Linked DNA regions of Homo sapiens. The protein of the gene in region 1 interacts with the protein of each later gene in a pairwise test. Each region holds a gene or a part of one and is shown on either strand. Other genes may lie near its edges.

Region 1 (3,500 bases):
AGATCATCTTTCAAGAATTCATTCTTGGATATTTCTGTGTTTACAGAATAATTCTCTTCCAAGAGCAATAAATATGCAGCTGGACACATGCGGCAAGATCCGTCCTTCTAAATCACTCTTCCTGGAGTTAAAGAAAACATTGTCTGGACATTCTTGTGATAACATCACAAGATGAGGCTCTTGAGCACTTGAATTATTATTCTGAAGCCCAACGTATAAATATCCTTTGTACCGCAGCCATCTCGAGTTGGAGCAGCCATGCTGGCACAAGATTCAATGCTTTCCTGTAATTGTTCAGTTATTGGCCTTGAAAGTTGCTGTCATTTATTTCATCACAATTGAGAGCTGTTTTTCCAACATATATGTTTTTCCAATAAAGGGTGTGATTTAGCTGTGGGACAAGAGGCTCACTGCCCATTCCATGCCCACAAACATAAGAATAATAATTTGGGAATTTGAAATAAGAACGATGAAAGGACAGAGAACTATAAATTGCGGAATTGTAAAAGCTGGAAACAAATCCCCAGATTATCTATGACAACTTCCTCATTCTATGGATGGAAAAACTGAAGCCCACGCATATTTATGAAAAAGAGGGTCCACTGAGCTTTCTCAAATAGCCGTCTGACTTACAGAAAATGAACTCCCAGTCTAACTTGAAAGGCCGTCTGTGTGGGTCAGGACAAGCACCAGCCCTGCTAGGGAAGGGAGACAGTCTACAGCCTCTGTTAATGTCTGCAGAGCTCCATTTATGTTGGCAGCTGGTGAAAGGGGTACACCTGTTTTCCTCTGAGGTAATAATCGTGATCACGGTGCTCATATACCTGATATGTGTTTTCCACTTCCTCTGATTCTACAGGACCAGGACAGAAAAAAACAAAAACAAAAAAAATCTGGCCAGGTGCGGTGGCTCACGCCTGTAATCCCAGCACTTTGGGAGGCTGAGGCGGGTGAAACACGAGGTCAGGAGATTGAGACCATCCTGGCTAACACGGTGAAACCCCATCTCTACTAAAAATACAAAAAAAAAATTATCCGGGTGTGGTGGCGGGCACCTGTAGTCCCAGCTACTTGGGAGGCTGGGGCAGGAGAATGGCGTGAACCAAGAGGTAGAGCTTGCAGTGAGCTGAGATCGTGCCACTGCACTCCAGCCTGGGCGACAAAGCGAGACTCCGTCTAAAAAAATAAAAAAATAAATCTAAGAGAATAAACTCTGAAAATAAGTAGGGCTCCACATTTGCTCAAAGTACGACTGAGGTTATGAATGTCATCATGGTGAATGTCATCATCAGTGATATGATGAATATCATTATCAGTGATACCAGCTCCCAGCAGGAACAGTAGCAGCTGCTATCTGCTCAGTGGGTCCACCTGGGAGGAGGCACTTGGCCCTGTGGTTCAGCTCCTAATTCTACAGAATTCTTTCTGAGAGTGGTGGATCCCTCTTCTACCTTGTTCCTCATCTTCTAAGAGGACACTAGAGTTCTACAAAGAGCAGAGAGCATTTCTACTCCAACCAACAGGGCAGAGCATAAAATGAGCAACTGCTGCTACCTAGGAGCACAGCAGGATGCACTGTGTGAAAGCAGGCCCCTGAAGGAGTTCCACACAGTTACATACTGCACAAGCCCTGAGCATCAGAATAAAAAGTCCATGAGCTAATAAGCAAGCTCAGAGCTTCCCTTCTATTACAACATGTTTAAAAGTATACCTATTGTCCTGTATTAGAAATCTCCTATAACTTGCATTTTTTTTTTTTTTTTGAGACAGAGTCTTGCTGTGTCACCCAGGCTGGAGTGCAGTGGCATGATCTCAGCTCACTGCAGCCTCCACCTCCCGGGTTTCAGTGATTCTCCTGCCTCAGCCTCCTGGGTTGCTGGGATTACGGGCACACGCCACCACACTCAGCTAATTTGTGTGTGTGTGTATGTGTGTGTGTGTATGTGTATTTTTTTTTTTTTAGTAGAGACGGAGTTTCACCATGTTGGCCAGACTGGTCTCAAACTCCTGACCTCAGGTGATCCGCCTGCCTTGGCCTCCTAAAGTGCTAGGATTACAGTCATGAGCCACTTGCATTTTTTACATCCCATAAATACCTGATTGCTCATTCATTCACTGAATAAACATTGGTTGAGCTGGAACTATGTGTCTAAAGTCATGAAAAGTGCAGAAGATACAAAGATGAATAAAATGCAGGCCCCTCCCCTCAAGGGACTTGTTATCTAGTGAGGAAAAGAGATATATACCAAACAGACTACCAAGCCCCTTACTCAGTGCGTGCTGGAGGTGCACAGGTATGATGGGCACGCAGAGGAGGAGCCCCTGAGAGAGCAGGCAGGCATCCCAGAGGAGATGCTATCTGTGCTAGGAACAGGTCAGCCAGGTGATATGGCAGGTCAGGTCAAGGGGTGGAGTAGGCAAAGCCAGAGACATGAGAGACAGAGTAGGGTAGGCAGAGAGCCCAGGAAGATGGAAGACCCAGTCAACAGCCAAGGCAATGAGGGCCTGGATGCCTTGTTCATGGACTTGGGTATGCCTCGCAGGCAGTGGAGAAACGGACAGCCCAGTGAAAGTTTACTGCATGGAAGCCTGCCTTTACTATGCAAGACAGGGGGCAATGACTCCTAAAAAATGTATCAGGGTATCAGAGCCCATTTCTGAATGATTTCTTCAAATAAAAGTAGGACATCTTGGTTCTACAAGGACTTATTAACCTAATTGTGTACAATCCATTTACTCTCTGTGAACTCCACATCCCTCCTGACAGGTTATCAATAATTCCTGCTCCTTAGCTGGTACACAGGAATGCTGAAAGCATCAGGCAACAGCCTGCAGGGAGATGCCCAAACATAAGGCGCAACCCCTCCTTTTTATTTCACTGAATCAAATTCCAAATCACAGTTTCCTGGAGTTCTTATTCCTCACCAAGCTAAATCATTCCATGATGTCATTACCCCTTCGGCCCTGAATAGGGTATTTGAAAAAGCTGGATCTTAGGGTACAGGCTTGACTCCAGGCCAAGGGAACTGCAATGGGTGAGGCAGGTGCCAGGTGCAGCTCGGAGGTCTGGGGATGGCCCAGGGAAGGCTTTGATCTCTGAGTCTCTCGCTAGCCCAGCTTTGACTCAGATGTAAGAATAGGTCGGGTACAGAGGCTCATGCCTGTAGTCCCAGTACTTTGGGAGACCGAGGCAGACATATCGTTTGAGCCCTGTAGTTCAAGACCAGCCTGGGCAACATGGAGAAACCCCATCTCTACAAAAAACACAAAAAATTTGCCGGGTGTGGTGGCATGCATTTGTAGTCCCTACTACTCAGGAGGCTGAGGTGGGAGGATCTTGAGCCCAGGAGGTCGAGGCTGCAGTGAGCCATGATAGCATCACTGCTCTCCAGCCTCAAGGAAACAGCCTCATGGTGACACAGACCATGTCTCCAAAGAAAAAAAAGAAAAAGAAATAAAAAGGATGTAAGAATAAAGGTTCAGAGGGCCAGGGAGCAACA
Region 2 (3,500 bases), on another chromosome or scaffold:
CAGTGCCCTTTCCTGCCTGGGAAGCCCACAAAGATTTCGCTTTTCACTTATTACTCATCAAACTGACTCTGGTTCACAGTGGAAAAGAGAAGAAAAGCTGATGGAGAAATGGCAGTGAAGAAGGAGAACAAAATGTCAGAGCAATACTTTTGAGCGACTATATCCTTTTCATTAAAGGTGTCAACACGTTTATTTGCATCTTTGACCCTAGGACTAGGGAAGTGCTGGAAATTATGTGGGTACTTTTTCCCATGGGAAAAATGTACCTCCTGGGTCGGGGGAAGGCTGAAAATAGGTGAAAGTGAGAATACTCAGTTGATCTTCAATTTTTTTTGTCTTATAATTAAAAAAGTGCTGTTGAAAGGAATAGGGTTGCATTTCACCTAGAATCAGTGCCAAGTATCAACAGCTAATGTCTGTCTTTTGAAGAAAGAATCTTTCATACCATGGGGGTTTTAAAGCTACTGATAAAACAAAAAGCTATTTTCTGAAGACCAGCCAACCTGAAAAACAAGTGTTTTAAAACCTAGAGAATTTCCTTTAATGTAAATAATCAAAGATGTTTTCAATTATTTTGCTATTACTTACATACAATGGTTTTACGTTTATGAGAAGTGCTATCCCTGAAATAACAATAATATGATCATTTATAAGTGGGGTGTGGAAAAATAACACAAGCATACAGAAAACCAGGAAGGAATTTTTCCAGTAAAAATTAAGCAATATTCACCACAATTGGCTCACATTGTGGAACTGGGAAGAACAAGAAAATAATAAAAAGAAAAATAAATCTTTACTGAAATGTAGTGATAGTGTTTCACTCGCAACCGCTTCTTCAAATTGAGATGCAGAAGAAATGTGTAAAAAGCAAAACTGGTACAAATCTTGATTACAATTTTGGATCAGTTTAAGACAATATGGCTCAACAGAGCAATTTACATAGGCTAACAGAGCAAACTTGAGTTGGTAATTTACTTTATTGGATACACATTTCACCTACAAAAAAAAAAAAAGAAAGGAGGGAGGCAGGAACAAAAGCAGAAAGGAAGAAAGGGATGTAGGGAGGGAGGGAAGGGAAAAAGAACATAAATCCAGGTTTGAGATTATATATAGAGCAGCTATTATCTCCCAAGTAAAGATTTGGCCATAAATTACAAATTAATTTAGAAGTTGTGTAATTTGGATTTTCTTTTAGCGTTCAAATTAAAGTCAATATTTATCTTTTTGCACATTGTTTCTTCAAGTCTGATCCTTTCATGTTTGCACTTTATGTCCCAACTTTATTTTCTACTCAATCAAGCATTAGAAAAGAGTAACAGCTTGTACAATATCACAATGCAATTGAAAAGTGAAGTTTTTCAGTATTTGCAGACATGTTAATTATATTCCAATTTTTGTAAGCAATAAAGAGAAAAATACTTGAAACTGGTAATATGCAGTTTACATAGCAAAGAAAAGGTCAGTGAAGAAACATCCTTCACTGACCTCTGAAACAAATATTATAGATTTTACACGCAGGAAACTTATTACATGCAAACTTTCTTTTGTAAGCATTTGTATTCTAAAAGTTGCAGCCACCTCTCTGCATATGTTAGAGGTAAGAATAAAAAAGTTTTAAGTTCTTAAGCATTGAAAATGATAATTGAATGGTACAGAGAGTTTCATTAATTGACCTTAGAGATAGAAAAGAAAATTTAGTTTCAAGACCCAAGTTCATCTAATTGTTGTTTAGTATTAACATTATTGGATAGTAGTATTACTATATTGTTAAATTTTACTTAAATGGACAAAATTGACTTTACCATTTAAATGTCTGCTTTAATTTTTAAAAATTCTAAACATAATAAAAATTAAGTCCATCTGGTGAAATGTAAAATGTTAACATAAGACTTTCCTATAAGTATGAATGAAATATTAAGTGAAGTTTTTTAGGTCAATAAACAATACATAGTACAAATTCAATTTTGGTCAGTCTGGAACTTACCAAAAGAATACTAGCACCAGTATGTATAAGAAAGAATAATCCTTAATTAATCTGTATTTTTTCTAGTATACCATCCATCCATAATACCTTGGGGAAAAAGTATTCTCAATAAAATTAAAGCAGTAATAATTTCACACTCCCAAAATACATAAATTTGTTGAAGCAATCTGTCAGTTTCAAAAATACAGGCATTCACACCCACAAAAATGACTTTTTTTAAGAGTATATGGGAATTATGCTTCACATGAGTAAAACAGGGTTAGGTTAGCCCCAGTGTTTCATTTTTATATGTAAGGCACGAATATCAGTCTAAATTGACAGAGGGCAATCTTCAAATGTGTTATGAGAGCCAGTGTCCCCTCTCCCTAGACCACTTGCATCACACATCAATTTGAGCATATTTTAGGTAAGCAAATTATTATTAAATCTACATTAAATACTTTTTGGAACAAGGGATGGTATAAACAAACCTCTATGTAAAATTAATTGTTTTGATGCTATAACGGTGAAATATTTGTGTGTTTTAAAATCTCCATATAAGAAAACATACATGGAGATACTGTTAAGCCAAATGCATGCACACATACTGAGCACTGTCTGAGACATTTGCATTAGTTTTCTGATGTACAACTTTACAACACTTCACATGGTCGAAATGTACTTTGAAAAATAAAAGACCCATTGTACCAGTAAGGGAAATTGTAAACAGCTTTTTACTGCACTTCTAATGCTATTAAAATATAGAATGTGTGGTCTCTTCTCTCTTCTACTAGTACTTTAGCAATGTCAACTGGAAGTGCATCCATGATCACTTTATCCAGCTGTCTCTCTCTCACTCCCAGCAAACTCTTAGATATACTTGATAAATATTTTCATCTAATTTGGTTCATCTGTTGTTTTTATTAACAACTAATTTAATATCCTCTGTTCTGCAATATTTGCAAAAGTCAGTCTATAGACGTGAAGCCAACAGGGACCCTCAGGCCTGTGCATCAGGATGGTGGGCTGCCTAAGTCCTCTGGGGACAGCAGTGCCAGAAGGAGTATTGGACACAGTGACCCGACTGTATGAGATGAGAAAAAACAAAAACAGGAGGTCCGCAGTACTGATGAACTAATCTGTCACTCACAAGCTCAGGTCTGCAAAAAAAAGAAACGAAGCACTAAACATGGCCATAAGAGATGGAAATGCAAGTCTTCATTTCTAAATGATAATCAAACCAACGATCAGAAACTGATTAACTGTGTAATTGAATTGAATTGAAAATCATCCCATGAATAACAATCCATCCTACCTTCAAGGGGTTAGGAAGCTAACTACAGGTAATTGCTATCAGAAATCTGATTTGATTTCCAAAAATTGTGTGAATGAACCAAGTTTCTTCATCTTGATATACTAGGCAGGGAGTTTGTTCTTCCAAGTACTAGACTGCTTAATTGCTTGCTTGGGGGAGGAGAAATCCTAGGGGAAAGGCATATATGAGCAATTTCTACTCTGTGAAGCCAGCGCTGTGTCC

Evidence for each region.
Region 2: the proteins of FHL2 (region 1) and POU6F2 interact in binary tests that used the Homo sapiens proteins (3 or more experiments, as listed by UniProt).

What each region holds. Positions count from the first base shown.
Region 1 is NC_000002.12:105,389,052-105,392,551, forward strand, and holds part of FHL2 (four and a half LIM domains protein 2), read right to left. Parts: intron 1,177-3,500; exon of another isoform or gene 1,056-1,176; intron 1-1,055. UniProt on the Homo sapiens protein: May function as a molecular transmitter linking various signaling pathways to transcriptional regulation. Negatively regulates the transcriptional repressor E4F1 and may function in cell growth.
Region 2 is NC_000007.14:38,980,909-38,984,408, reverse strand, and holds part of POU6F2 (POU domain, class 6, transcription factor 2), read right to left. Parts: exon of another isoform or gene 2,903-3,500; intron 160-2,902; exon of another isoform or gene 4-159; intron 1-3. UniProt on the Homo sapiens protein: Probable transcription factor likely to be involved in early steps in the differentiation of amacrine and ganglion cells. Recognizes and binds to the DNA sequence 5'-ATGCAAAT-3'. Isoform 1 does not bind DNA.